Regions from separate parts of the Homo sapiens genome. Here regions 1, 2, 3 and 5 are each linked to region 4. Evidence: fine-mapped expression QTL. A gene starts in region 4. Each other region holds a variant in brackets. All regions are shown on one strand. Distances are between the middles of the regions.

Region 1 (6,194 bases), 59 kb after region 4:
TTTATTTATTTATTTAAAAAAAATAACATGTAGCAAGATTTACTTTTATAAGTGAATATATCTCTTTTTCTACCTTTATCTATATCTATCATTATGAATATGTATGTATGAATACATAATAAATATAGATAAATATAATGTTACATATATTATATTAAAAGTAATGGCAAAACAGCAATTACTTTTGCACGAACCGCATATAATATAATTCTTAAGATGATAGGTCTGGTGAGTGACAAGGTGGGTACTCCTGATGTAGGAGGTTGTCTAAATGTGTCTTAGACTAAATATTTTAGAACACTTATACGCTGTCTTAGGACTTCTATCTTTGATAACCCTTCACTTCTGATCTGTGTAAAATGTCTTTCTGATTCCTTTCTGACTTCCTCCTTTAGGGTTATTTTTAACACTACTCTTTTCCAAATATAGTTCCTCACTCTAATAGAATAGTGCTTTATTCTTTGGATACAGTGCATCCATTTTGCACATTATCCTAAGCAAATCTTGCTTTCAATTTTGTTTGGATTTAAAATAAACTAGACTATGGACGTAATGTTTTCAAATTATCCACTCTGTCTTTTATTTTTGCCGCTGTTGTTGTCATTTTACTTCTGCAAACTCTCTGTAGTCTGGAGCCTGTTAGGAGGTCTTGGCAATCATTCACTTCCTCATAATTTGGAAAACTGTGGAAACTAGACCACCGTTACCATAGCTCATTCTGCGTTGGTGTTCTCTGTGAATCGTGAAAACAGATTTTCCATCACTAGTAGATATAAACTAAAATAAAAGTAACACGAAGTATTCCAAACTACAAATAATGATTTATTCGTTGGCAATTTTCAATATTTTTTATCCACCTTTTGGCCCACTAGCAAAGAAACTTGAGGAAATCAGATGACTTCATTCCTTATTTTTCAGATGCTGGATGGCACCTTTAAGAAATCATGCAACAAATATTCAGTGTTTGGTAGAAGGACACAGATCTAGGAGTCCCAACCCACATATTAAAATGATGCTGAGGCTAAACCTGTTCCGCATTCTTTACCTTACCCCTTGTCCAACTAACTACTTTGTTAACCACCAGCAACAATTGTCCCCACCCCTGCCCCTCCTCAGTGGACTTGCCTCTCTGGCTTCTTGACCTTCGCTTCTTCTACAGGCTCATGATATATCTCCTGCCTTCTGGTCTGGCAAACTAGAAAGGACAAACTAATTACTTGATCTCTCCTTCTGAGCTAAGGACCTTTTCTCATAAGATTCATTCTGGGCCCTGTTGCCTCCTTGGTTCTGGCTCCAGATGGACAGATGTTGGCTGTTATCTTGAACCTAGGATCCGGAAATGCTGGAATTTTTGCCAATGTCACTATTCTACAATTGAAAACATGCAATTGTTGAACCCACCCTACTTCACAGGAGAAATGATTCTTGATATGGTTTGGCTGTGTCACCACCAAATCTTGACTTGAATTGTATCTCCCAGAATTCTCAAGTGTTGTGGGAGGGACCCAGGGGGAGGTAATTGATTCATGGGGGCCGGTCTTTCCTGTGCTATTATCGTGATAGTGAATAAGTCTCACGGGATCTGAAGGATTTCCGCTTTTGCTTCTCTCATTCTTCACTTGCTGCCATCATAGAAGAAGTGCCTTTGGCCTCCTGCCATGATTCTGAGGCCTCGCCAGCCATGTGGAACTGTAAGTCCAATGAAACCTCTTTTTGTTCCCAATTTTGGGTACGTCTTTATCAGCAGCATGAAAACGAACTAATACATTCCCCTCTGGGTTTTTGCTGCAATTGAAAAACTTTATGATCTTCTAGACCAGTCCTTGATCTTATCATGTTCTCTTTTGGTAATAAATAGTTTGTAATACTTCTTTTATGATTCTGAAATAAAAATGATGGATAATATGATCTACCTACACATCACTTCAAAAAAATCAATATAATGCACAAACTAGTATAAAGAGAAATAAGAGAAAAGTAATTTATAATAGATTAGTATGGATTTCATTATATAAATGTTTAAGAATGAGTATTCCAGAGGAATAAGAATATTGTCAGGTGATTGCACCTATGCACCAAACCAACTTGTGACAGCTGCAGAGGCAGATGGTTAGAGGTGGAAATTTTTTAATTTTTATTTTTAATTGACACATAATAATTGTACATATTTATGGGATACAATGGGATGTTTTGATACAAGAAGTGTGTTTTATTTCGAGGCAAAAATTGCATAAGTAGTGTTGCTATCAGAATATGATTTTCGGGGTGGGGGGAGGGGGGAGAGATAGCATTAGGAGATATACCTAATGTTAAATGACAAGTTAATGGGTGCAGCACACCAACATGGCACATGTATACATATGTAACAAACTTGCATGTTGTGCACGTGTACCCTAAAACTCAAAGTATAATAATAATAAAAAATATGATTTTCAAAAAATGTGGTAAAATCAAAACAAAACAAATACAATATTCTCCTTGGGAAATGCAATGTTGTTATATGAAATGAAATTAGCTTCCAGGTTCAAATCACATAAACAGGTTTTGTTTTGTTTTTTTTTTGATATAGAGTCTCGCTCTATCGCCAGGCTGGAGTGCAGTGGCACCATCTCAGCTCACTGCAGCTTCCACCTCCCAGGTTGAAGCGATTCTTCTGCCTCACCCTCTCCAGTAACTGGGATTACAGGTGCCTGCCACCACGCCCAGCTAATTTTTGTGTTTTTAGTAGAGATGGGGTTTCACCATGTTGGCCAGGCTGGTCTCGATCTCTTGACCTTGTGATCCACTCACCTCGGCCTACCAAAGTGCTGGGATTACAGGCGTGAGCCATTGCGCCTGGCCCCGCATAAACAGGTTTTTAACTTATACAGATATCTTGTGGGTCAGTGAAAAGTTACGTGGGATACAAAGCAATTCTTTATTCTCTGGAACTGTCTCATGTATTGTAGGACATCTGGCATTCCTGGAACCTGCCAAAGATCTAGACAAAGCCAGTAGCTTCTTTATCATGGC[G/A]ACAACCAAAACATGTGCTCTTCCCCATTTTAAAACTGCCACCAAGGGGATGATAGAGCTCTCATTGAGAACCACTGTTGAAAATTACCCACTACCTGCCCAGGAATGTGGACAAGAAGAAAGAAGTGGTAGAAGAGGTGGTGGGTGTGAATTGACATTTATGTGTACTTACTATGTTGCGATGTCCATGAAATAATTTTATGTATTTTTTAAACTTCATCTCCAAAATCAACCCTTGAGGTAGGCAGGCTAGGGCAGTTAAATAACTTACTCAAAGTCGTACAGCTGAGAAGTATGAGCTGATTGGAGCTTGAAGTCCTCCATAGCTAATAGCATTCTTGGCTCTCTGGCTTTACAGAAAATGAAGAAATGGTCAACACTGTACAAAAGGTGGAGAGGCCCCTTGGTGGAAATTTTGAGGGAGTTCCCAGCTGACCCAGGCCAGATGCATGAAAGCCCAGGCCAGGCAGAAAGTGTCAATCATGCTATTCACAAGCCCCGCTGAGGGAGGTCCTGTCCACTGCTTTGCAGCGGAGTCTAAAGCTTGGCCCGAGACCCAGCCCTGGAACAATGCCACTCTCTGTAGAATTTGTCTTTCTTTTTTTTTTTTAAAAAAAATCTTCATTGTTTTCTCCCTTATAATAGAAATGATAGATGCTCATTGTGAAATGTTCCTACTCAATCTAGAAATGTATAAAGCAAGAATGAAAGTTCTGTAGTCCCATCACTCAAAGATAATTGCTGCGTACATCCTTTTCATTTTTTTTCCTCAGTGTATAAAAATACTGATTGTAAAATGAGATCACACTATAAATAATGTTTTTTAACTTGCTATTTTTATTTAGCAGCATATTATGGCTTTTTATCCTTGTCAATATACAAAAAACTTTCTCTCTCCTAATTTTTAATGATCACATAATTTAGAATTGTATGTCTACTTTTGCACCAGGTCCATAAGGAAACTTCTCCTAGGAGAAAAAGACACAAAAAATACTTTTTTAAAAAATATTTTTGCTATCACAAACAATGCTATAATGAGCATGATTGGGCATATATCTTTGGGTAAAGACGCACATACTTCTGTAGTATAAATTCCTAGAAACAGAACTGCCAAATTGCTATCTGAAAGGCTCTACCAATCTACAGTTCTATCAATGGCACTTAAAAATGCCAATTCCTTACACCTCAGCAAACTAACAAGTCTATTTTTCCGATTGGTTTTGGGGAAATAATGCATGCTAATTTATTTTATTTTATTTTATTTTATTTTATTTTATTTTATTTTATTTTGTGTCATTTTTTTGAGATGGAGTCTCACTCTGTCACCCAGGCTGGAGTGCAGTGGCATGATCTCGGCTCACTGCAAGCTCCGCCTCCTGAGTTCACGCCATTCTCCTGCCTCAGCCTCCTGAGTAGCTGGGACTACAGGTGCCTGCCACCATGCCCGGCTAATTTTTTTGTATTTTTAGTAGAGACGGGATTTCACCGTGTTATTCAGGATGGTCTCAATCTCCTGACCTTGTGAACAGCCCGCCTCGGCCTCTCAGAGTGCTGGGATTATAGGCATAAGCCACAGCACCTGGCCGCTAATTTGTTTTTAAAGTACATCAAAAAAATTATCTTCCAAAATAACATCCTTCAAATATTTTTCCATTGGAACATTTTACTACATATCTGTCCCATGATGAGTGGTGCCCTACAAAAGATATGCCCACTGGGAACCTGTGAATGTGACTTACTTGCAAAAAGTGTCTTTGCACATGTAAAGTTAAAGATCTCTAGATGAGGTCATACTCAATTATAATGGGCCCTAAATCCAATGACAAATGTCATTATAAGAGAAAAGGAAAGAGGTGACATGATGATAAAGCAGAGATTGGAGAGATGCATCCACAAGCCAAGGAATGCTGAGATTGACCAGCAGCTGTCAGAAGCTAGGAGAGGTGCCTGATCACTCAGGCAACCTACAGAATGGGAGAAAATTTTTGCAATCTATCCATTTGACAAAGGGCTAATATGCAGAAGCTACAAAGAACTTAAACAAATTTATGAGAAAAAAAAAACCACATCAAAAAGTGGGCGAAGGATATGAACAGACACTTTTCAAAAGAAAACATTTATGCAGCCAACAAACATGTGAAAAAAAGCTCATCATCCCTGGTCATTAGAGACATGCAAATCAAAACCACAATGAGATACCATTTCTCACCACTTAGAATGCTGATCATTAAAAAGTCAGGAAACAACAGATGCTGGAGAGGATGTGGAGAAATAGGAACGCTTTTACACTGTTGGTGGGAGTGTAAATTAGTTCAACTATTGTGGAAGACAGTGTGGTGTTTCCTCAAGGATCTAGAACTAGAAATACCATTTGACCCAGCCATCCCATTACTGTGTATATACCTAAAGGATTATAAATCATGCTGCTATAAAGACACATGCACACGTATGTTTATTGCAGCACTATTCACAATAGCAAAGACTTGGAACCAACCCGAATGTCCATCAATGATAGACTGGATTAAGAAAATGTGGCACATATACACCATGGAATACTATGCAGCCATAAAAAAGGATGAGTTCATGTCTTTTGTAGGGATGTGGATGAAGCTGGAAACCATCATTCTGAGCAAACTATCACAAGGACAGAAAACCAAACACTGCATGTTCTCACTCGTAGGTGGGAGTTGAACAATGAGAACACTTGGACATAGGGTGGGGAACATCACACACTGGGGCCTGTAGTGGTGTGGGGGGAGGGAGGATGGATAGCATTAGGAGATATACCTAATGTAAATGATGAGTTAATGGGTGCAGCACACCAACATGGCACATGTATACATATGTAACAAACCTGCACATTGTGCACATGTACCCTGGAACTTAAAGTATAATAAATAAATAATTAAAATAAAATAAATTTTATTTATTATACGTTAAGTTCTGGGATTTATATGCAGAACGTGCAGGTTTGTAACATAGGTATACATATGCCATGGTGGTTTGCTGTACCCGTCAACCCATCATCTACGTTTTAAGCCCTGCATGCATTAGGTATTTGTCCTAATACTCTCCCTACACACCCCAACAGGCCCTTGTGTGTGATGTTCCCCTCCCTGTGTCCATGTGTTCTCATTGTTCAGCTGCCACTTATGAATGAGAACATGTGGTGTTTGGTTTTC
Region 2 (6,194 bases), 180 kb before region 4:
GCTAAGAGCAAACGGGAATGTGTATCATTTCCATCTGAGGAGTAACTAACTCTTCATGGAAGTCCTTTAAGTCAGATACTCATAGAGTATGGTCTGCAGACTGGTGGCCGGCCATTGGTATAAATTCACAGAAAGATAAGTACGGGAATTGAGAGTAAGCACTTGAAGGATTTTTAAAGCCACTTTCCCATTGAATCCAATAAAAAATGTTGGCCCTGAATATTGTCTGGTTTTTTAAAAAATTTATTTTTCTAGTAATTTTTTATTATATTTGGTACAGATTTTGGTTCATGACAGATTGGAAATTTTTTAAAAATCAAAAACCCCAAACCCAAACAAATGCTCCCTTACCAGTGATAGCTTTAATTGTTGGGAAAATTCCACTAGCCATTGGTCCAGAGGGAAGGAGCAAAGATTGGATGATGTGCTCGGTCTATGATGTCATAACTTCATTATCCTAGGCAGAACAGGGTGGCTGTGGTTTATATGTTTTATGTAGAAATTGAGAAAATCCTTATAGAAAATCCCAGCTATTATCTTGCCATGTTAAGATCAATAGACTTGCCACATGTAACTTCTCCAAGCTAAACTTTCATCATATGTAACATATAAAAGTTATACTTAATTTCTAGGGTTGTTCTGAAACTCAAGTAGTCAGCACTTGTACAGTATTCTGTATTCGCCAGGGCCTATTGTAATATGAAACTACACCACCTATACTCATTTCACCCTTACAACAATCCTTAGAGGCATTCACTATTTTCATTCCTATTCTGTAGATGAGGAAACTGAGGCATAGAGGGGTTAAGTGACTTGCCCAAAGTAAAACAGCCAGGAAGCAATGCAGCTGAGATTTAAACCCAGGAGGTCTGGCTGAAGAGTCTGTTCCTTCATCGCCTATGTCATACTCTCTTTCATAATTGGTTTCAATAAATGTTTGCTCTTGGTTCATTTATTCTCTTTGTCCATTTTAGATGGGCTTTAGGTAATAGTGAAATTCTACCTGGAACCTCTAGTGTTAAATACATCTAATTACAGGGAGCTATTTGGCCTCTGCTTTTCTGCCTGTTGCCACATTTCACAAGTTCCAGTCAGGTAAACATCCTGAGCCAGATACGGTTAATATAATGAAGCCAGGAGAATATGAGATGAGTTCTAATTGTCCATGTGGCCAACACATAGGCCACCCTCTGCCCAACTTCTCACTTCATTTATTTGATCATCCAATTGTCCAAAATCCACATTTTGAACACGGGCCATGGGTCAGGTCTTGTGATACGGCACAGGAAAGACCAAGATGCAATAACACATGTCTTAATGTGAAGGGGGAGAAGTTTACTGAGTAAGGTAGACTTATAAACATGGATGTGGAAGCAGGAAGATGAGAGGGAAACAAGATCGTGTGGTGAAAGAGGTGGGAGATAGAACACATGGTCCTTCCTACATTCTTCAGGGGCTGCTGTTCCAGCCAGTGGTGGCGCCTCAGCTCATCAACAAGCAGCCAGATACAAGCATCCACCATCTCCTCGTTCTGAAGCCACAGCCACAGTCTCACCCAACAAAGGAAGTGAGCACAAGATTTCTGAGTGGCAGTGTTAGCATGGGTTCTGTGGGTCGTGAAGGTTTTCCCATTAATATCTGCTCAGAAATATTCAGAGGACTTTCACTTCTGTTACGAGATTCCACTGGACTTGATTGCCCTTTTCTTACATTTCAATTCTGAATGCCTCTTTTATTCCTTCAGGGGCCACACCAAATGTCATTTCCGCTATACATCCTCCCCTCATCACCACCTGCCCCACTCCAAGCAGTGTTGCCAGTCTCTCCCCAGTGCTCCAACTGTACTCTGTGCACACCCTTGGCAAAGCACGTATTATGCTGCAATTACAGCTGGAAATTCATCAATACCTAAAAATTCTGCCATGAGTGGACTGTGTCTTAGTCATCTTTGTTTCATGGTGGCCAGTTCAATAAAGACTTTTGGATGACTGAGGTTCTTTTAGGCTGCCCCAGTGTCAATCTATCCTGGTAATTATGTCTACAGTGTCTGGATTCAAGATGAAAGGGAAGTTGTAACTGGTTCTCTTCCATTTCAAATACAAGCTAGTCATACAGATTTTATAGGAGTCTCTTAGTGGCAATCTTATCCCCTACTTTTCCCTTTTAGGGACAAAATCTTTTTAGATAATAAAGGTTTTGCTCCAGGATCTATCTTTTCTAGCATTTACTTGTTAGGCATTCCCACTCATTACAGTTCCTTCAAACATTCCAGCTTTTCTAGGGCCAAATGGCCATTGCTAGCGTGTCTGCTTCCAACCAACTCTATGACAGACACTGTTAATTGTCTATTCACTTTCTTCCTTTCAAATGAAACATAATTTTTTTTTAAGCTGGTAGAGATCCCATGACCTCAGAGAATGCAGAACCCCTCCCCCAGACCCAAAGGACAAGTTATGATTGGCTTAGGCTCAACATATGACCCAGTTGTAGCCAATGAGATAAAAGGAAAAGTTGGCTGGGGGAGGGCTCCCTTTCTAGAGTGAAAACTAAAACAAAAACAAATGCCATAGTATGAAGAAAGTCTTTCTCTATAATGGATTCCTTTCTGCCTGGGTTGTTGTTATGAGAAAATAATTCTGGGCACAACAGGAGCCATTTTGTGGACAGGAGACCATAACTTTGAGCACAAAAGGCCAACACTAAGGGTGGTGATAGGAAGCCTGAAAACAAAATGGGGCCGGGTGCGGTGGCTCACGCCTGTAATCCCAGGACTTTGGGAGCCCGAGGTGGGCAGACCACCTGAGGTCAGGAGTTCGAGACCAGCCTGGCCAACATGGTGAAACCCCGTCTCTACTAAAAATACAAAAATTAGCCAGGCATGGTGGTAGGCGCCTGTAGTCCCAGTTACTCGGGAGGCTGATGCAGGAGAATGGCTTGAAACCAGGAGGCAAAGGTTGCAGTGAGCTGAGATCGTGCCACTGCACTCCAGCCTAGGTGACAGAGTGAGATTCCATCT[C/G]AAAAAAATAAAAAATAAATAAATAAATAAAATGGGTCTTTGGTGACACTGTTGAGCAATGGAAGTAACACCAGAAACACTTACCCTTTGACTTCTTTTTATGGGAGAAAACAGACTTCTACGTTTTCAAGCTTTTGGTCATGTTTTCTCTCACTTGTAGCCAAAAGCTTCCTGGCTGATATACTTCATAATTTCTTTTTCCTGCTTCTCTCATGAACCCAGACTCAGCTCTTTTCTCTTCTCCTACATTTCTAATAGAAAAGTTACTTCAAAGCTAGGTTCGGTTAGAGTAGAAATTGTTTTTCCAAAGTTGGTGGTAACCTTACATGTTATCTACTGAATAGGTGAAGAAACTAGGGGAGAGAGAAGTTCAATGATTTGGCCAGGACATGCATACTAAATATTGGTAATACATACTAAATATCCTGCTTTTCTGATTTCAAGTTTAATCGTGAGTTTATCATATATTAGTTGAGAGAGATGGTATCTTTCTTGACTTCATAGCCCCAGTCCCTAGCATAATGCCTGCATACCGTATGTTCCTTATAAAGGTTTATTAAATGAATAAATTGTAGCCTCAACTACATTATAAGCTTCATGAGACAAGACTTCTTCATGAGACATTATAGAATAAATTGTAGCCTCAACTACATTATAAGCTTCAAGAGACAAGGGTCCAGCATGGTACATGGCACACAGTAGATGCTCAAAAATATCTGTTGGATAGATAGATGGGGATTGCTAATGGATGTGTGACACTATGTTTAAGGACTGAAAAATTAATTAAAGGCATTGAACTTCAATGCATTAGATTATTAATATCAAGGAGTGGGTGCAGTATACAAAACAGTTAAACTCTTGTGCTGTAGAGCCAGGCAGTGGGGTTTAGATTTAGATGCCTTGCTTACCGGTAGCATACTCATTGTAAGTTATTTAACTTGTCTGAGCCCCAATTTCCTTACATGCAAAAAAACCAAGATAGTGATAATACCTCCTTCACTGGGTTTCTGTGAGAATAAAATGGAATCATGAACATAAAACATGTAGCACAGTGCCTGGTGTGTAGAAAAAATATAATTGCTACTATGGTTGTCTATTTTTTTGGTGAAAAAAATTTCTTAAGGAAGTATGGAAATTCTTTTATACATGTGGTTTAGAGCAAACAAAGCAGTGTCATTTAGGTTGACTTGATGCAAATGTGTTTTAGTTGGGGGGTGGCGTTTTTTGGTTTAGGTAGCTCATTTTGCTTACAGTTTGAAGAGGAAAAAAGCTAAGCAGATGGCACGGTGACACAAAGGACTGGAGCCTACTGTTGCTAGAGGTTGTAAAAGTGGAACCCCACGGTTGCCAGCTTGGCTGGACTTCAAACAAGTCCCATAAAGAGTGTGACTCGCTCAGAAGGGGGCAGGAACTTGGTGTGAAGCTCTCTAAAGTGCAAAGAACAACATCATTATATCCACAGTAGCTTGACTCAGTGCTGGGCTCTGGCCATAGGCCGGATGGCAAGAGGGTGTCAGAAAATCACAGGCAGTGCACCTGTGAAGGGACACCAAAGACTGAATCCTTTGAAAACTCCTGACTCCAGAACAACGACAAATTACCAACAGATGGCGTGAGTCACAGACTCGGAGTCCGAATGAGGCATCTGCAAACTCACGGCAGAGGCCCTGCCCCGCTGGGCTGAGCCGGACAGACACAGGCCCCAGCCCAGATGGCTGCGAAGGTCACCAGGAGGGACACCAGCCGTATGCGCTCAACTCATGAGAACTGGCACAACTCGTAAGGCCCAAGAAGGCTTCCCAGGATTAAAGGAAACAGAAACCAGATATCCTGGTCAAATAAAACCTCACATTTTTGGGGCTTATTAAATACAAGAAAATAAAAATGTGATGGGGTTCAGTATATATACCCGAAAATATTTTAAGCTGAAGGAATTTGGGAAAATGGCAGAAGTAGGAAGGTCTTCTCATCTCCTCCCTTCCCTGCCCTACCTTCTTTGAAGCAAAGCTTGGGAGACCCTCATTGGAGAGGTGCCCTCCCTAGATCCAGAGGAAAGAAGCATCTTTATCTTTGAAGAGAAGAATTGGAAAAAACAGGATTTCCTCCAGTTTATTATCAGTAGATCACACTTTTTAGTCCAATTATACTTCATAACTATCCACTTCTGTGTTAAACCTAGCATAAAAAATACATGGTTTCCCTGTTTCTTCAGGTCTTCCTTTACCTTAGGAAGGCATCCATGTCACGTAAAACCTAAATACAACGGTATCCTTTTCTGTTGTTTATTTATCTTTGTTATAGGGGCCTCAGCCAGGAACCTAGACTTTTCTTCTTCCCCTACAAATGAATCAGGGGAGAAGAGAGTGAGATGGGGAGCCTGGGAACATGGCATGCCAGGGAGGCATTTAGCAGAAAAAGGCCACCATTTTCCATTCCAGAAGCTTCTTTGATGTACTCCCCTTCTCATGCACAGGTTTAGCTTCAGGTCAGAAAAGTCCTGTAGATATGTACATTTCCCACATACCTTCCCTGCCATTATTCTATAAAATATGACCACATGCCACAAAGCGAAAAGGTATCTATACAAATTTCAGATGTTTTTCCTTCTTCCAGTGTTACAGAAACACGTATGTCCTCACAGAGACCAGCAATGATGAAAGGAAATACTAAATTCTATTTAGGAAAAAAAAAACTTGCATGGAATAAAGTCCTCAAAGCATCTCATTTGATGAAAAATCCTGTCTTCTGAGTTTCCACAGCACCCGGGGCATAGCCTACCACCTTAGGTTGTATGTCACCATTTTCCACTCTGCCACTAGAATTTCAGCTTGTCATCTGTTGTTCATCTTTAAATCCCTACCTCCTACCACATCATCTAACTTTCAGTGGGCCTTCAATGAATGACAGATGAATGAATGAATAAATACATGCATGCATGCAGGGCTATGTAGTAATGATTAGGCCTCTCCACCCCCGCCCCAGGAAGGGAAGTGCATTTAACTCAGAGGGAATAATCCCTTTGCCACATTCCAAGACAATCTGATTGGAGTTCATTTCATCCTCATCTCCCAAGTAGCGTTTGCTCATGTTATGTATCATGGGATATCCACCATGAGTCATGAAAGGCCACTTTCTAAATTAAAGGTCCAAGCATTTTTGTTCCATCTTATTATCAATG
Region 3 (6,194 bases), 670 kb before region 4:
TGCCCTGGGGTAAAGGTGGCTGAAATTCTTTATATTTTAGGTTGATCTTTTCAGGGGGGTCATGAAAAAAAATGTATAATCTTTTGTTTTGTTTTGTTTTGAGATGGAGTCTCCCTCTGTCGCCCAGGCTGGAGTGCAGTGTCACAATCTCGGCTCACTGCAACCTCTGCCTCCCGGGTCAAGCGATTCTCCTGCCTCAGCCTCCTGAGTAGCTGGGATTACAGGCGCCCCCCACTGGTTTCGAACTCCTGACCTTGTGATCCGCCTGCCTAGGACTCCCAAAGTGCTAGGATTACAGGCGTGGGCCACAGCGCCTGGCCAAAAATGTATAATCTTTAAAAGCCTATTTTTTATTGAGTTGAGCCATGAACAATACATATTAAAACAACACCAACTCAGGTAGGTGGGGATAACCAGTCTAAGTTGTAAGAAGATTTGAGTAGGAATTTCCCCAAATCCATGTTTATTACTTTCATTTTACATATCCAATCAGACCAGGTTTCTTAAGATGATTAAAAAGTTTATTTTCTGGAGCATTCTTCACATTCTGTCCACTACCTACCATCTTGCCTACACAACAGAGAGCACAGTATTTGTAAAGAACAGTATTCCTTTGGCAAAACTGGTCCAGGCCTAAACTAAAGCAGGAAAGATAAACTACACCTGATTCCTGCCCAACCCTGCAGTGATAGGAAAATGGGTAGTTTCAACTGAAGTTTTTATTTTCTAAGATAAACACAAAAATGCAGTTTGGGGAAAGGTAACTTTTCACTGTAGCTGAAACTGTAACACTTAAGGTTTGATAGCAAAGCTAAGTTTGTACTTAGACATTATGCTCTTTTCAATAATCCCTCCTTGCCACTCTGTGTTTCAAATATTGTGATTATTTGGGTAATATCAGGGTCTCATCCTTCTTGAAGACTGAAAGGCTATGAAATGTAGAAGGAAGAATATATTTATCTTAATACATACTATATATAATAGAATATTTCATACAATAGGTTAGAATAGACTGGGCTGGGTGTGGCAGCTCATGCCTGTAATCCCAAAGCTTTGAGAGGCCGAGACAGGAGGATCACTTGAGCCCAGAGTTCGAGACCACCCTGGGCAATACAGTGAGACACCATCACTCTAAAAAATAATAATAAATAAAATTTAATTTAATTTAAAAAGAATAGACTGCTATATACTACATAGACATATATATAATATATATAATTCTTAAGAGGTCTAGAATATGTTATGTGTAGAAGTATTCTTGTCCTATATTGTTTCCTGTATAATATTTACAGAAAGGTATAAAATAAATATCATTCCTATATAATATTTATATAGAAGTTCACGATGTTATATTACATTATATATAATAGACTCTATATAATAGAATACTTTTATATAGGATGTATTCCAGTCCTCTTAAGAATATACCTTTGTGTTCAAATCCAGACCCTGCAAGTTATTGGTAGGTGAACACAGGCAAACTCCCCAACTTCTCTGAGCCTTTATTTCCACATGTGAAAACACAGGCACTAAAACCTAGCATGAATAGACGTTAGGATGATTAAAATATCTTGTAGGCCGGACGTGTTGGCTCACGCCAGTAATCCCAGCACTTTGGGAGGCCGAGGCGGGCGGATCACGAGGTCAGGAGATCGAGACCATCCTGGCTAACACAGTAAAACCCCGTCTCTATTAAAAATACAAAAAAATTAGCCGGGCATGGTGGCGGGTGCCTGTAGTCCCAGCTACTCCGAGGCTCAGGCAGGAGAATGGCTTGAACCTGGGAGGCGGGGCTTGCAGTGAGCCGAGATCTTGCCACTGCACTCCAGCCTGGGTGACAGAGCAAGGCTCCGTCTCAAAAAAAAAAAAAAAAAAAAAAAAAAAAAAAAAAAAAATTGTAAAGGGTTTGGCATAAATTACAGACCAAAGAAATAGGAGTTTTTTTCTCCTCTACTTTCCATTTCTCCTGTATACATTTGCATATTCCTTGATAATAATCCACCAATATTTTCATTTGACATGCTTATTGACCTAGAAGGCAGCATAGTATAGGGATTAAGAATGCAAACTCAAGGCAGGGTTCTGAGGATTAAATACTGGCTATGCTTTGCATAAGGCCTGGAACTTAGGGTGATTACCTAACTTTTCTGTGCCTCGCTAGTTTACTCAGGAGTAAAAGTGAGATTATAATAGTAACCTGCATCATAGGGTAACTGAGAAGATTGCAGGCATTTAAAATAGTATCACAGGCTGAGCAACATAGTGAGACTCCATTTCGACAAAAAATTAAAAAATTATCTGGATGAGGCAGGAGGATCGCTTGTACCCAGGAGTTAGAGGTTAAGGTGAGTTATGATTGTGCCATTGCACTCCCACCTGGGTGACAGAGAGAGAACGTGTCTATAAAAATTTATTAATAATTAATTAAAAGAGTGCCTGACACA[T/C]AGTAAATACTCAATGAGTTAGTTATCATTATTATTAATACCCACATATCTTTTTCCTATATTAAGTTTAATCCTAAATGAAACTTCAAATGAGTAACAGAAATACATTTTTTAAACTTTAATTTTTTTAGGAAAAACTACTTTACTTCACAATGCTACACATATAGAAATTACCCAAATTATCCAAAGGGAACATTTTCAAGCCTCATGGGGTAGTAACTAATTTGAACTTTTTAGCATTGAATTGAAATGAAAAACTCAGCAAAAAGAAAAGATGACGGAATGCCAGCAATATGTCACTGTCTTACTTAACACAGGTGATTAAACTTTCATTGGTGTCAATAATGTTTTGCATTTGATTCATCTGAAGTTTTTTTAAAAAAACATTACAGAGGGTAAGTGGTGGGGTGGGGGGATGGGAAGTTGTTGAATGGGCACAGAGTTTTCATTTTGCAAGATGAAAAAGTTCGGGAGGTCTGTTGCACAACGATGTGAATATACTTAACACTACTGAACCGTAAACCTAAAATGGCTAAGATGGTAAATTTACATTATGGATTTTAAAATAAAATCAAATTGTAAAATATTTTAGGACTATAGATTTCTATAAATGCTGAAATGAAAAACAGACAAGAAAGAATTTTCATCACGATAATGCATAATCAGTTTTCTAATAATTTTCTAATATCTAGTCTTCTTTCCAATCATGTTTTTTTATTATCTTGTATTTTTGTATATAGCCTCTTACGCCCTGTCTTATGGGTACTAAGTAAACACTTATACTTTGGAATAAAGGAAACTTCATGAGTACCAATTTCAAAACTTACAGTCTAGGCTTGGGAATCAGTTGGAGAAACCTTCGGACAAAAAGTGTTATAAGCCTAGGTGAGCAAACACCTAACACAAAAGAAGTAAAAATTAAGATTGCATCTTATATTCTAAGTGAGAAATAAATCAGGAAAATATGTAAGCCAAAAAACAGTCACTTTCCAGGACTTAGCCCTCAGTGATAAGGACCAGATTCATATCACAGGATGAAAAAGACAAAACAAAACCACAAAGGGAAATAATATGCAAAGGAAATAAAATAATGGACTTTCCTGACATGAATTCTCTGACCCAGGCCAGAAGGGCTTCTGTAGTACCTTTAAAAGTGTTTAAAGTGGCACCACTCCAAAGGAAAATGAAATTAGGAAATTATCCACCCAAGCAAGGGATATAAACAATCGGATCTTCTCTTAAAGCAATACAAACCCACTTTGTCTCAACCCAATGGAGGCCTTATTTAATTAAGATGTGGGTGGGAACAGTGCTCCTTTTCTCCACATCCCCCTTAGCAATCAAATGTGATGGAAAAAAAAGGGAAAGCAAGTTAACAATTCTGCAATTCATTCTATGTGTGTGATTTTTAAAATGTGTCATTTGTAATCAGAAATCAGCAAAATCAGTAGCATCCATGTCTCATTTGAGAATGCTTTCACAGAATGCTCAGTGAAAATGCCTTGCTTATCTGAATTCACTAGAAAAACCTAACTCCCCCTGGAAAAGACGGGAGACTTGAGATACTAGTCAGGTCTATGGTGCAACCCATTTAAATCCAGAGCTCGGCTTGGATTAAACACAATATCCCACTTTTTCCAGAATGTACAGGAAGCAAGGGAGACTCCTCAACTCCATTTAGAAAAAAAGATTTCATGGTTTTATCGATCTGTAAGAGGTAGGACCTGATGGTTAGGCCATTTATTGTGCAGCTGGGCTATTCTAAACCCATGGTGGAAGCATCCCATATTTATAAAACCACTAACTTCAATTATGACAAATGCACAAAAAGTTAGCACTCATATTCTATTACTCTTTCCCATAAATGGGTTTTACCACTAGAATAGACCTATAATGAATAATAAATGCTCCATAAATAAAAAGATGGGCCATAATGAGTCTTTCCATCCACCTATGTATAAAAAGATTGAACCAAGAAAAAAAATCCATTCTACTGGGAGAAGAAAAGGGGAGAAATAATTAGTCTCCTTTATATTTAGAGCACATAGAGGAAATCTGTTTTAACACAATTATATACCTTTAGGAAAATAATAGACGATATTTTTTAAAAGCATACGTAATAAAATTATTATATAATATCTCTTGCCCACAGAATTTCTAGCACTCATTTGGTCTCATTAGGTTTTGTTGTGAAATACACAAGAACACAAATGGTTGAATTAAAATACAACCCCCACCACACTTCCTTTCTGAGAAAGATGTTCCCACATTGACCTTTGCAATGCTGCCATACAGAGCAGTCACAGTTACTTAAGGTCATTATCCATTCATGAGAGAATAGCTCCCCACCCTACCCACTAAATTGGTAAAATATTCATTTAGTCTGTTATGGCTTTTCAGGGTTTCTTGAGGCTGTTTTAAGCAACTCTCAGTGGTATGAACACTAAAGAAGGATTGAAAACAAGCAGTCATTCCCTACCCCTCACCCCAAATCCAGCACTTTCCAAATCGAAAAGATTCACTTGCAAATGCTCCATATATAGGATGGGATAAGGTCCATCAAGAGCCATTCATTCATTCATTCGTTCATTCAATATACATTTACTGAATGTTTAACATAAGCCAGGCACTATACAAGTTTCTTTGAGATCTCACCAAAGAAGAAAACAAAAATCCCTGTTCTCATGGAATTTATAATCTACTAGGAAGTGGGGTCAGATAACAAACAATAGAAATAATTTATAGATGTTAGACGGTAAAATGTGCTATGGAAAATGAAAAAAGTAAGGTAGAAAAAGAGGAGGAATCAGGCTAGGCATGGTGGCTCACATCTATAATCCCAGCACTTTGGGAGGTCAAGGTAGGACAATCACTTGAAGCCAGTTGGACACCCAGCCTGGGCAGCTGAGCAAGCCTCCATCTCTATGAAAAAAAATTTTTTTTTAAAATTAAGTTGGGTGTTGTGGTGCATGCCTTTGGTCCTAGCAACTTGGGAGGCTGAGGCAGGAGGATTGCTTTGAGCCCAGGAGTTAGAGGCTGCAGTAGAAATGATCACACCACTGCACTCCAGCATGGGTGAATGAGCAAGACCCTGTCTCAAATAAATAAATAAATCAGAAAAGAAAAGACAAGGAGTAATCAAAAGTGCTGGGTGGAGCTACTTTATACCCACCAGGATAGCAATAATAAAAAAAGACAGGTAGTAATAAATGTTGGCTGGAGTGTAGAGAAATTAGAATGCTCATACACTGCTAGTAGGAATATAAAATGGTGTGGCTGCATTGAAAAACAGTTTGGCAGTTCCTCAAAATGTTAAACATTGAATTACCACATGACTAAGCAATTCCATTTCTAGGTATATAACCAAGAGAAATGAAACCAAGAGAAGTGAAAACATATATGTACACAAAAACTTATATACAAATGCACACAGCAACATTATTCATAATAGCCGCCAATAGAAAGAAACCCAACGTCCAGCAACTGATGAATAAATAAAATGTGGTATATTCATACAATGGAATGTTTGGTATTTGATAATGAAATGATGTACTGATACACGCTACAACATAGATGACCAATGAAAGCTTGCTAAGTGAAAGATATCAGTCATAAAAGACCACATATGTATTGTATGATTCCATCTGTATGAGATATCAAGAATAGGCAAACCCGCAGAGATAGAAAGTAGAGCTGGGAGACTGGTGAAATGGGGAATGACTGCTAATGAGTATGGGATTTCTTTCTAGA
Region 4 (6,194 bases):
CTAAATCTCAAATAATAAAAAGAATAACACTTTGCATGAATGTTTTTATGAATATATCTCAGACATACTTTCTCACAGGCACTCTTTGTTAAAGATAATTATTATGTTTCAATCAGGAGCCACAGAGTAAAAAATTACAACGCTGGCTAAAGGTCCTATACAATCTGAAGCTAAATATGAAGCAAAGTAAATGTTTCACATTTGAATCTACTGTCTGACTTCTGGGATAGAAAAAGTCCTGTATGGTGATTAGTATTTAAAACAGGCAAGTCCAATCATTGAATGCTAAAAGATAAATTATATGACAGCATATCAAGCTGACTCTACTATGGTTTCATGTCACACAAAGGTTATGAGAGGTATATCATTTCTTCTGAGCCTTGTTTTTCAATGCACAGTAAGCAATGCTAATTATGAAAAGCAGGCATCTCTTGGGTTAACCAACACCCTCAATTTCTACCTCTGTTCACCTGCTGACCCCTGCCTTGCTCCCACAACACAGCATCTACTGCAAGAGTGATGCTGAGGGCTGTTTCTAGAACCTATGGCTCCCACAGCATCTCTGTATTCTTGCCCAGCACTGCTCTTTAGCAACATTCAAATAGGCCAGCTCTAAGTAAGATCTGACTTAGGAATGGGATAAGGCAGTGTCCCAAAAGGAGTTTTGCTCACATAGCCCCTCAAAGAATTCTGAAAATCTATGCACATATTTTTAAATAACATCTCAACATCCTTAACATAGTTAAGTGTAAACACTTGAAAAAGGGACATCTTTCTGGCGCTCTATGGGTGGTATGCTTGCTTCATATACATATGCATCAGAACCTCAGGGTTGCAGATTTAGCTCATTCAGTATACAGAAAATGTCTGCTACACAACATAATTGGCAAAGCCAATCCTCATTGACAAGCCAATCAACCCAATAAGACTTTCTGTCAAGGCAACTCCGACATTGTTGTTCAATCAAATATAAAGATAGCCCTGGTGACAACCATCTATCTTCTGGAAGCTAAAAGGAACAGACAGAAAAGCACACCTCAGAGTCTTGTCACGGGCTCCTCACTTGGATGAATGGGGAGAATGAAAGGAGAACTGGCAGGCATCACGCATGTTCAGAGGGAAATTAGTTTCAAGCAGAGTTGGAAGATGAGGATCTGAAAATTAAAACCCTTGCAACATTCTATACCCTGTGAAGTCTTGTGGGCCTAAGGGTATGTGCACAGTTTGGAGACTGCTGGGCAACAGAATTGAAATTCCACTCTGAAAGTATCTAATATAATGCAAATATAAGGTGTTATTTTTAAACCAAAAGCCTCTCTGCATTTCTTTGAGGCATCCTAAGCCTTTGGAAATTTTTAAAACAGGTATCATGTTCTCTTCATCAGAATGGAGGGTCAACAAGAGATTATAATCTTGCTGGTGTAGCCAACCAACTGTATAGTCTTGGATAAACAGTTCAGGGAGTCCCAGGAATTGGTTCTACAATTTCTCTGAGTGCTTTAGAACTTCATTGCTTTTGTTTTAAGCCTCTTCCTAATAATCTTTTAGCGTGTGTCTTAGTCACCTTTACCCTGAAATTCCTAGGTCCATCCATGAGTTCATTATTGGGCCTTATGCCCATGTTCTGTTCTCCAGGGAGGTTGAAGAGGGCCTTTTAGTGCCAGAAATAGAAAAACTTTCAAAATGATATACTAATAATAACCTGCACCTGTCAAGATTATCATATTGTGCCAACAGAGGAGCTGCTTATGCAAACTACTGTAAATTTGTACATGGGAAGACAGAGAAGTGTGTACAGTCACCTTGGAAATGCACTTTGAACATCTCTGTCTCCTAATATGTACGGGGTAAAGGTTGAAAGTAAATTATTGACAATGGGGGAAAAAAACAGATGCAAAGAAGACAACTTTATTAGGTGCTTTCTCTCCCTTATGAGAAGGATTTGGTTCTTTCAGGTGAAGTTCCAAATCACTAGACAATACCCAGTTTCCTTCAGTTGCAACAAGTTCATCCCACGGTGGGTGCTCTGAAAAGCACCTTGAGGGCGAATGGGTCTCAGGCCATTCAGGATCAGGTCCGATGCTTTTGTTGAAGATTCTTCCCGTGTCACCTCTTAGAAGCAGTTCGGTGTCCCCCTCCAAAGAGCCCACCACCTGGCTGCGCCCCACCTCCATTTGTCCCCCAGTTGCCAGGTAAGGGTACCCAGCTACCAGGTAACGGTGAGTGGTTCAGAAGGTGCCGCTGCGGGGGCAGCCAGGCCTTCACACGCAATCACTGGGGAAGAGGCGAGGACACGGGTGGATGCTGGAGGCGCGCACGTGCGCAGGTGCTCGCGCATCCACACACACACACACACACACACACACACACGCACACACAGGCACGGGGTGCGGGGCGAGCAGGGGGAGGGGACGGCCTTACCAGATCAATGAACGTCAGGAATTTCCAGCTCCCTCCGTAGGTCTGGTGTGAGGGCATTTCGATGGCCTTGTAGTTACACAGGATAGAGCAGTAAGACAGCAGGATTGCCATCCGCAGCACCTGGCAGGGGACAAGCGCCATGTTCGCCAGAGGCCTGGACCGGCTGGGCGGCAAGGAGGGCGGGCGTGAGGGAGGCGCCGGGCGCGCGGGGGCGGGCGCCGTGGGAACCCGGGCGCGGGCGCGGGCGCGGGGCGGGGCGGGGCGGGGGCGGGGGCGGGGGCGGGGCGCGCGCCCCCGGGGACTGGCGCGGCCGCGAGCGCCCGGGTGACCTGTACTGGCCGGGCGCGGTTTGCGGACGCTCTCCACTGCCGGCCGCGGCCTGGCAGGCGGCGTGTCGTCATCTCTTTCGTCACCTTCGTCATTCTGCTCCTGCGTTCGCAGGGTCCCGGGACACCCGGCCAGGAGGCGCCCCCTAGGCATCCCAGGTGTGGATGCGACCTCTGAGTGCTACGAGGGCTCGGGAAGTGCGCGCTGATCTCCAGGGGGAAGCGGGCCCTGTGGCTAGTGGGCGCCGGGCCGGGCGAGGGGGCGGGGAACCTAGACTGAAGGAGTGGACCCCAGTGTCCACAAATGTTCCCGCCCCGGAATCGCGGTGACGCTTCCTGGGGTAGTTGCAGTTGGCCGAGAGCTGGTGCCCCGTGCGGAGGGATCCGGTGGGGGTGTGAACGTGGGGTGTAAACCCGAGCACAGGCAGCCGCGAGTGACTTTCAGTATTTTGGGGCAATAAGGTTTTCAGTGTTGACAAACGACTGTCAATCACTAGGAAACTCTCTCAATTCTGCTTTCAATGGGTAGGCTACGCAGCACTTTTCCATGACAGATTGAATAATGTCATATCAGTATATAACATCAGCTAGAATATGAACTTTGGACAAGAGGTTTATAGATAAAAAGCTATAAAGAAAGGATTTTCAAATAACTTTCTGCCACAAGATTGCATTCAGCTTTAAAAAATTCCAATTTTGGATGTAAAACCCCTGCGTGTAATTTAATACTAATCATCTGGTTGTTAAACTGGTTTTGCCCTTACTTTTTTCTTACACTACACTACCAGGGCTTAATGGAAGGAAAATAAATATAAACTGGAGTCCCTCCTGCCTTCCAGTAAATGTTGTCACACTGAAGTTGCATCAGTCTGTGGGCAACATTTTCATTTCAGCCAACCAGTTGCAGGTTCGGATTATGAAAAGGCAACATAGGTATTTCCTGTGGATCCATTTAAAACAGGTGTCCTCTTCAAATAGTCTCTGAGTCAGAGGATGTGGAGGGAGGGCTGGTGGGGAGAAGCATAGTGCTAGAGGTAAAGAGAAAGTAGCAAGCAAGCCATGGATGTTTTCCTGAATGTTTCCAATCAAGCTCTAAACTAAAATGAAGAGACCCACTAGATTTTTTTAATTGGCATTATAATTATGCTAATAGAACTGATGTCAGAAGAAGATTCTACTAGCATTAAAACGATGTATTATTGATGATTTTTGGTTAAATCTTAATGTAAAAGTTGGCTTTATTTTTTTAATTGTGCATCCTTGGTACATGGTTATAAACTGCCAAAAAAATAAAAATAAAAAAGAGTAGATCTATTGAAGATCTACCTACCTTAATAATGTGTCTGGAATTGGTTCCTGCCGGTAGATTAGTGGTCTCAGTGACTTCAAGAATGAAGCGGCAGACCTTGGTGGTAAGTGTTACAGCTCTTAAAGATGGCACAGACCCAGAGTGAGCGATAGCAAGGTTTATTGTGAAGAGTGAAAGGACAAAGCTTCCACAGCATGAAAGGGGACTGGAGCGGGTTGCTGCTGCTGGCTGGGGTGGCCAGCTTTTATTCCCTTATTGTCCTCTCCAGTGTTCTGTTTCTGTCCTATGAGAGTGCCCTTTTTTCAGTCCTCCCTGCGATTGGCTACTTTTAAAATCTTGCTGATTGGTGCGTTTTACAGAGTGCTGATTAGTGTGTTTTACAGAGTGCTGATTGGTGCTTTTTACAGAGCGCTGATTGGTGCATTTTACACTCCTCTTGTAAGACAGGCAAGTTCCCCAAGTCCCCACTTGTCTCAGGAGGTCCAGCTGGCCTCACCTCTCAATAGAGCCTTAATAAAGTTTTATGAGTTAATGTGATATTTGCAAAGTTTGATATACCCTTCCTACTTTACATGTTAGACAATTATTAAGACTCCCCAACCCCATTGTTACAAAATGAAATAATATTTTCATAAAGCCATTTTTAATGGTCAGGTTTTTTGTTTTGTTTTTCTTTTTGTTTTTTTGTGAGACAGAGTCTAGCTCTGTCACCCAGGCGGAAGTGCAGTGGCATGATCTCAGCTCACTGCAACCTCTGCCTCCTGGGTTCAACTATTCTCCTGCCTCAGCCTCCCAAGTAGCTGGGACTACAGGCGCATGCCACCACACCTGGCTAATTTTTTTTGTATCTTTAGTAGAGATGGGGTTTCACCATGTTGGCCAGGTTGGTCTTGAACTCCTGACTTCAAATGATCCACCTGCCTCGGCCTCCCAAAGTGCTGGGATTACAGGTGTGAGTCACTGCGCCCGACCAGTTTCTTTTAAATAAATAACTATAACTCTTAATTAAGTATTTAGAACCTATTCTGCTGGGTTTGCTTTTGTTTTTTCATGATTTGCCAACCATGATCAGATAGTTTTGTGCTTTAAAAAAATGAAGCGTTTGTATAAAACTTGACTCAAATACTATTTTATGAGAATGTCAGTTCACAATTTTTGGAACTTCTTGATAACTATTAACATGTCCAGGCTTGCTTTCTGTGCTTTTCAGACCATATCTAACAATCTTAGTCATGTTTTACAGATAACTTTTGTGGAAAATATTAATCTACACACATTGTGTTTTTACAGCGTAAACAATTGCTTTTAAAACTTCATTAGGTAAGTTATTACTTTTTATGAACTATAATACATTATTCACTTCTAAGTATTCTTATGATGATTCCATATTTGATTTAGATAATACTGTTTTCTATGTATAGAAGAAATATTTGCATGTCTTTTTTTTTATCTTTTTCATTCTACTACACAGTTAGTGAGACTGGAGGAGAAAAGCCTCATCCAGTTGAATTTCATCAATAGCAGTAAACATAAGAAACACCAAGGGAAGATTTCAAGAACCCGTTTTAGCTTCAAGCTATATTCTTTGATTGTTGTAATATTTCTTAGACTATATATGGGGCTGAAGATACCCTTTCTTAAGTACTTCTAATAATTGAGACAGACTGTTCATTCCTTTTTTTTCTTTTGGAGGGGGGGTGTATTAGTCCATTTTCATACTGCTATGAAGAAATACCTGTGATTGGATAATTCATAGAGAAAAAGAGTCTTAATGGACTCACAGTTCCACATGGCTGGGGAGGCTTCACCCTCATGGCAGAAGATAAAGGAAGAGCAAAGTCACATCTTACGTGGTGGCAGGCAAAAGAGTGTGTGCAGGAAACTGCCCTTTATAAAACCATCAGATCTCCTGAGACTTATTCACTATCACAAGAACAGCACAGGAAAACCTGCCCCCATGATTCAATTACCTCCCACCAGTTCCCCCCCTACAATGCGTGGAGATTAAGGGAGCTACAATTCAAGATGAAATTTGGGTGGGGACACAGCCAAACCGTATCAGGGAGGATGTCTGTCTGACATACTGATGATAATACCTGTTAATTTGGGAAATGACTGGGACTCCTATGTCACCCTTA
Region 5 (6,194 bases), 28 kb after region 4:
AGCAGCCCCAGTCAGGGAGTTACAGATAAAACCCTCGTCCCTCTGGGACAGAGCACGTGGGGGAAGGGGCAACTGTGGGCACAGCTTCTCCAGACTTAAATGTCCCTGGCTGACACCTCTGAAAAGAGCAGTGGCTCACCCAGCATGGTGGTCGAGCTCTGATAATGGATGGACTGCCTCCTTAAGTGGGTCCCTGACCCTCATGTAGCCTGCCTGGGAGACACTTCCCAGTAGGGGCTGAGAGACACCTCATTAAGGAGAGCTCTTGCTGGCATCTGGTGGGTGCCCCTCTGGGACAAAGCTTCCAGAGGAAGGATCAGGCAGCAATATTTGCTGTTCTGCAGCCTCCACTGGTGATACCCAGGCGAACAGGGTCTGGAGTGGACCTCCAGCAAACTCCAACAGATCTGAAACTGAGGGACCTGACTGTTAGAAGGAAAACCAAGAAACAGAAAGGAATAGCATCAACATCAACAAAAAGGACATCCACACCAAAACCAACATCAAGACCAAAGGTAGATAAAAGACCAAAGGTAGATAAAACCACAAAGATGGGGAGAAACCAGAGCAGAAAGGCTAAAAATTCCAAGAACCAGAAAGCCTCTTCTCCTCCAAAGGATCACAACTCCTCGCCAGTAAGGGAACAAAACTGGACGGAGAATGAGTTTGATGCATTGACAGAAGTAGGGTTCAGAAGGTGGGTAATAACAAACTTCTCCGAGCGAAAGGAGCATGTTCTGACCCATTGCAAGGAAGCTAAGAACCTTGAAAAAAGGTTAGAGGCATGGCTAACTAGAATAAGAATAACTAGTGTAGAGAAAAACATAAATTACCTGAGGGAGCTGAAAAAAACAGCACGAGAACTTCATGAAGCATACACAAGCTTCAATAGCTGATTAGATCAAATGGAAGAAAGGATATCAGTGATTGAAGATCAAATTAATGAAATAAAGTGAGAAGACAAGATTAGAGAAAAAAGAATGAAAAGAAATGAATAAAGCCCCCAAGAAATATGGGACTATGTGAAAAGACCAAATCTACATTTGATTGGTGTACCGGAAAGTGACGGGGAGAATGGAACCAAGTTAGAAAACACTCTTCAGGATATTATCTAGGAAAACTTTCCCAACCTAGCAAGACAGGCCAAGATTCAAATTCAGGAAATACAAAGAATACCACAAAGATATTCCTTGAGAAAAGCAACCCCAAGTCATATAATCATCAGATTCACCAAGGTTGAAATGAAGGAAAAAATGTTAAGGGCAGCCAAAGAGAAAGGTTAGGTTACCCACAAAGGGAAGCCCATCAGACTAACAGTGGATCTCTTGGCAGACACCCTACAAGCCAGAAGAGAGTGGGGGCCAATATTCAACATTCTTAAAGGAAAGAATTTTCAGCGCAGAATTTCATATCCAGCCAAACTAAGCTTCACAAGGGAAGGAGAAATAAAATCCTTTATAGACAAGCAAATGCTGAGAGATTTTGTCACCACCAGGCCTGCCTTACAAGAGCTCCTGAAGGAAGCACTAAATGTGGAAAGGAACAACGGGTACCAGCCACTGCAAAAACATGCCAAATAGTGAAGTCCACTGATGCTATGAAGAAACTGCATGAACGAACGGGCAAAATAACCAGCTAGCATCATAATGACAGGATCAAATTCACACATAATAATATTGACCTTAAATGTAAATGTGCTAAATGCCCCAATTAAAAGACACAGACTGGCAAATTGGATAAAGAGTCAAGACCCATCAGTGTGCTGTATTCAGGAGACCCATCTCGTGTGCAAAGACACAAATAGGCTCAAAATAAAGGGATGGAGGAAGATCTACCAAGTAAATGGAAAGCAAAAAAAAGCAGGGGTTGCAATCCTTGTCTGTGATAAAACAGACTTTTTTGTATTATTATACTTTAAGTTCTACGGTACATGTGCACAAAATGCAGGTTTGATACATAAGTATACATGTGCCATTTTGGTTTGCTGCACACATCAACTTGTGGCACTATTCACAATAACAAAGATAAAACAGACTTTAAACCAACAAAGATCAAAAGAGACAAAGAAGGCCATTACATAATGGTAAAGGGATCAATTCAACAAGAAGAGCTAACTATCCTAAATATATATGCACCCAATACAGGAGCACCCAGATTCATAAAGCAAGTACTTAGAGACCTACAAAGAGACTGTGACTCCCACACAATAATAGTGGGAGACTTTAACACCCCATTGTTAATATTAGACAGATCAACAAGACAGAAAATTAACAAGGATATCCAGGACTTGAACTCAGCTCTGGACCAAGCAGACCTAATAGACTTCTACAGAACACTCCACCCCAAATCAACAAAATATACATTCTTCTCAGCACCACATCGCACTTATTCTAAAATGGACCAGGAGAAGTGTTTGGAAGTAAAACACTCCTCAGCAAATGGAAATAACAGAAATCACAACAAACTGTCTCTCAGACCACAGTGCAATCAAATTAGAATTCAGGATTAAGAAACTCACTCAAAACCACTCAACTACATGGAAACTGAACAACTTGCTCCTGAATGACTACTGGGTAACTAATGAAATGATGGCAGAAATAAAGATGTTCTTTGAAACCATTGAGAATGAAGACACAACGTACCAGATTCTCTAGACACATTTAAAGCAGTGGTTAGAGGGAAATTTATAGCACTAAATGCCA[A/G]CAAGAGAAAGTAGGAAATATCTAAAATCAACACTCTAACATCACAATTAAAAGAACTAGAGAAGCAAGAGCAAACAAATTGAAAAGCTAGCAGAAGACAAGAAATAACTAAGATCAGAGCAGAACCGAAGGAGATAGAGACTCAAAAAAAAAAACCTTCAAAAAAATCAATGAACCCAGGATCTGGTTTTTTGAGAAGATCAACAAAATTCATGGACTGCTAGAAAGACTAATAAGGAAGAAAGAGAAGAATCAAATAGACGTAATAAAAAATGATAAAGGGGATATCACCACCAATCCCACAGAAATACAAACTACTATCAGAAAATACTATAAACACCTCTATGCAAATAAACTAGAAAATCTAGAAGAAATGGATACATTCATGGACACATACACCCTCCCAAGACTAAACCAGGAAGAAGTCGTATCTCTGAATAGACCAATAGCAAGTTCTGAAATGAGGCAATAATTAATAGCCTACCAACCAAAAAAAGTCCAGGACCAGATGGATTCACAGCCAAATTGTACCAGAGGTACAAAGAGGAGCTGGTACCGTTCCTTCTGAAACTATCCCAATCAATAGAAAAAGAGGGAATCCTCCCTAACTCATTTTAGGAGGCCAGCATCATCCTGATACCAAAGACTGGCAGAGACACAACAAAAAAAGAATTTTAGGTCAGTATCCCTGATAAACATCGATGCAAAAATCCTCAATAAAATAGTGGCAAGCCGAATCCAGCAGCACATCAAAAACTTATCCACCATGATCAAGTTGGCTTCATCCCTGGGATGCAAGGCTGGTTCAACACATGCAAATCAATAAACGTAATCCATCACATAAACAGAACCAACGACAAAACCCACATGCTTATCTTAATAGATGCAGAAAAGACCTTTGACAAAATTCAACAGCCCTTCATGATAAAAACTCTCAATAAACTAGGTATTGATGGGACATACCTCAAAATAATAAGAGCTATTTATGACAAACCCACAGCCAATATCATACTGAATGGGCAAAAACTGGAAGCATTCCCTTTGAAAGCTGGCACAAGACAAGTATACCCTCTCTCACCACTCCTATTCAGCATAGTATTGGAAGTTCTGGCCAGGGCAATCAGACAAGAGAAAGAAATAAAGGGTATTCAATTATGAAAAGAGGAAGTCAAATTGTCTCTGTTTGCAGATGACATGATTATATATTTAGAAAACCCCATCATCTCATCCCAAATTTCCTTAAGCTGATAAGCAACTTCAGCAGTGTCTCAGGATACAAAATCAGTGTGCAAAAATCACAAGTATATCTATACACCAATTACAAGCAAATAGAGAGTGAAATAATGAATGAACTCCCATTCACAATTGCTACAAAGAGAATAAAATACCTAGGAATGCAACTTACAAGGGATGTGAAGGAGAACTACAAACCACTGCTCAATGAAATAAAAGAGGACACAAACAAATACAAGAACATTTCATGCTTATGGATAGGAAGAATCAATATTGTGAAAATGGCCATACTGCCCAAGGTAATTTATACCTTCAATGCTATCCCCATCAAGCTACCACTGACTTCCTTCACAGAATTGGAAAAAACTACTTTAAATTTCATATGGGAAAAAAAAGGGCCCGCATAGCCAAGACAATTCTAAGCAAAAAGAACAAAGCTGGAGGCATCACACTACCTGACTTCAAACTGTACTACAAGTCTACAGTAACCAAAACAGCGTGTTACTGGTACCAAAACAGTTATATAGACCAATGGAACAGATCAGAGGCCTCAGAAATAATGCCACACATCTACAACCATCTGATATTTGACAAACCTGACGAAAACAAGCAATGGGGAAAGGATTCCCTATTTAATAAATGGTGCTGGGAAAACTGGCTAGCCATATGTAGAAAGCTGAAACTGGATTCCTTCCTTACACCATATACAAAAATTAACTCAAGGTGGATTAAAGACTTAAATGTAAGATCTAAAACCATAAAAACCCTAGAAGAAAACCTAAGCATTACCATTCAGGACATAGGCATGGGCAAAGACTTCATGACTAAAACACCAAAAGCAATGGCAACAAAAGCCAAAATTGACAAATGGGATCTAATTATACTAAAGAGCTTCTGCACAGCAAAAGAAACTCTTAGCAGAGTGAACAGGCAACCTACAGAATTGGAGAAAATTTTTGCAATCTATCCATCTGACAAAGGGCTAATATCCAGAATCTGCAAAGAACTTCAACAAATTTATAAGAAAAAAACAACCCCATCGAAAAGTGGGCAAAGGATATGAACAGACACTTCTCAAAAGAAGACATTTATGCAGCCAACAGACTTATGAAAAAATGCTCATCATCACTGGTCATTAGAGAAATGCAAATCAAAACTACAATGAGATACAATCTCTCACCAGTTAGAATAGTGATCATTAAAAAGTCAGGAAAAAACAGGTGCTGGAGAGGATGTGGAGAAATAGGAATGCTTTTACACTGTTGGTGGGAGTGTAAATTAGTTCAACCGTTGTGGAAGACAGTGTGGTGATTCCTCAAGGATCTAGAACTAGAAATACCATTTAACCCAGCAATCCCATTAGTGGGTATATACCCAAAGGATTATAAATTATGCTGCTATAGAGACACAAGCACATGTATGTTTATTGTGACACTATTCACAATAGCAAAGACTTGGAACCAACCCAAATGCCCATCAGTAATAGACTGGATAAAGAAAATGTGGCACATATACACCATGGAATACTATGCAGCCATAAAAAAGATGAGTTCATGTTCTTTACAGGGACATGAATGAAAGTGGAAACCATCATTCTCAGCAAACTATCACAAGGACAGAAAACCAAGCACCACATGTTCTCACTCATAAGTGGGAATTGAACAATGAGAACACATGGACACAGGGAGGGGCTCATCACACACTGGGGCCTGTAGGTGGGTGGGGGACTGGGGGAGGGATAGCATTAGGAAAAATACCTAATATAAATGACGGGTTGATGGGTGCAGCACACCAACATGGCACATGTATACCTACGTAACAAACCTGCACTTGGTGCACATGTACCCCAGAACTTAAAGTATAATATAAAAAAAATAGAGAATGCTTTCTATTAATACTTCTATTATTCAACAAGATTCTGGAACTTATGGACAATAAAAGAATATAAGGAAAGGAAAAAAGTATATATTGGTTGTAAAATGTATGATTATTTACCAAAAATTATATAACTACCTTGGAGTAAAATCAAGAAAACTGTCTGCTACAGCAACAGAAAGTACGAGAAAGCAGTTAATACAAGATTAATATACCAAAAATCAATAAAAGTTAGAAAATGAAGTGGGAAACAAGACTCATTAGTAATGCTAATAAACATACCTAGAAATAAATCCAATAAGAAAGATGCAAGATTTTCAGTTAAACACAAAAGAAAGACTAAAATAAATGAGGAAACATAACTACATTGAGGGAAGAGTATAA

Which allele goes with the higher level. Positions count from the first base shown, and alleles are read on the strand shown. Sizes are in standard deviations (SD) of each study's normalised expression. Not every link is listed here.
For the expression in whole blood of the gene that starts at base 2,599 in region 4, A is the low allele of the variant in region 1 and G is the other (large effect, 1.1 SD a copy in TwinsUK).

Evidence for each region.
Region 1: its variant is fine-mapped to the expression of AIG1 in whole blood (TwinsUK, PIP 0.95).
Region 2: its variant is fine-mapped to the expression of AIG1 in whole blood (TOPMed, PIP above 0.99).
Region 3: its variant is fine-mapped to the expression of AIG1 in spinal cord (GTEx, PIP 0.97).
Region 5: its variant is fine-mapped to the expression of AIG1 in whole blood (TOPMed, PIP above 0.99).

What each region holds. Positions count from the first base shown.
Region 1 is chr6:142,998,349-143,004,542 of GRCh38, reverse strand. All of the region lies in intron 2 of LINC01277 (long intergenic non-protein coding RNA 1277), which reads left to right. Among named protein-coding and RNA genes, the nearest start is that of LINC01277, 36 kb to the left of the region's middle. RefSeq lists an enhancer at 606-1,805. The variant G/A (reference allele first, on the strand shown) is at 3,013.
Region 2 is chr6:143,234,782-143,240,975 of GRCh38, reverse strand. All of the region lies in intron 3 of AIG1 (androgen induced 1), which reads right to left. Among named protein-coding and RNA genes, the nearest start is that of AIG1, 180 kb to the right of the region's middle. The variant C/G (reference allele first, on the strand shown) is at 3,017.
Region 3 is chr6:143,732,256-143,738,449 of GRCh38, reverse strand. The region is part of intron 2 of PHACTR2 (phosphatase and actin regulator 2); the gene reads right to left. Among named protein-coding and RNA genes, the nearest start is that of PHACTR2, 57 kb to the right of the region's middle. The variant T/C (reference allele first, on the strand shown) is at 2,445.
Region 4 is chr6:143,057,294-143,063,487 of GRCh38, reverse strand. It overlaps AIG1 (androgen induced 1), which reads right to left and starts at 2,599. Exons shown (of 6, transcript NM_016108.4): 1 at 2,422-2,599. The coding sequence starts at 2,562. RefSeq lists enhancers at 2,060-2,109, 2,710-2,839, 2,665-3,603 and silencers at 2,300-2,369, 2,620-2,709.
Region 5 is chr6:143,028,862-143,035,055 of GRCh38, reverse strand. The region is part of intron 1 of LINC01277 (long intergenic non-protein coding RNA 1277); the gene reads left to right. Among named protein-coding and RNA genes, the nearest start is that of LINC01277, 5.6 kb to the left of the region's middle. RefSeq lists an enhancer at 1-98. The variant A/G (reference allele first, on the strand shown) is at 2,703.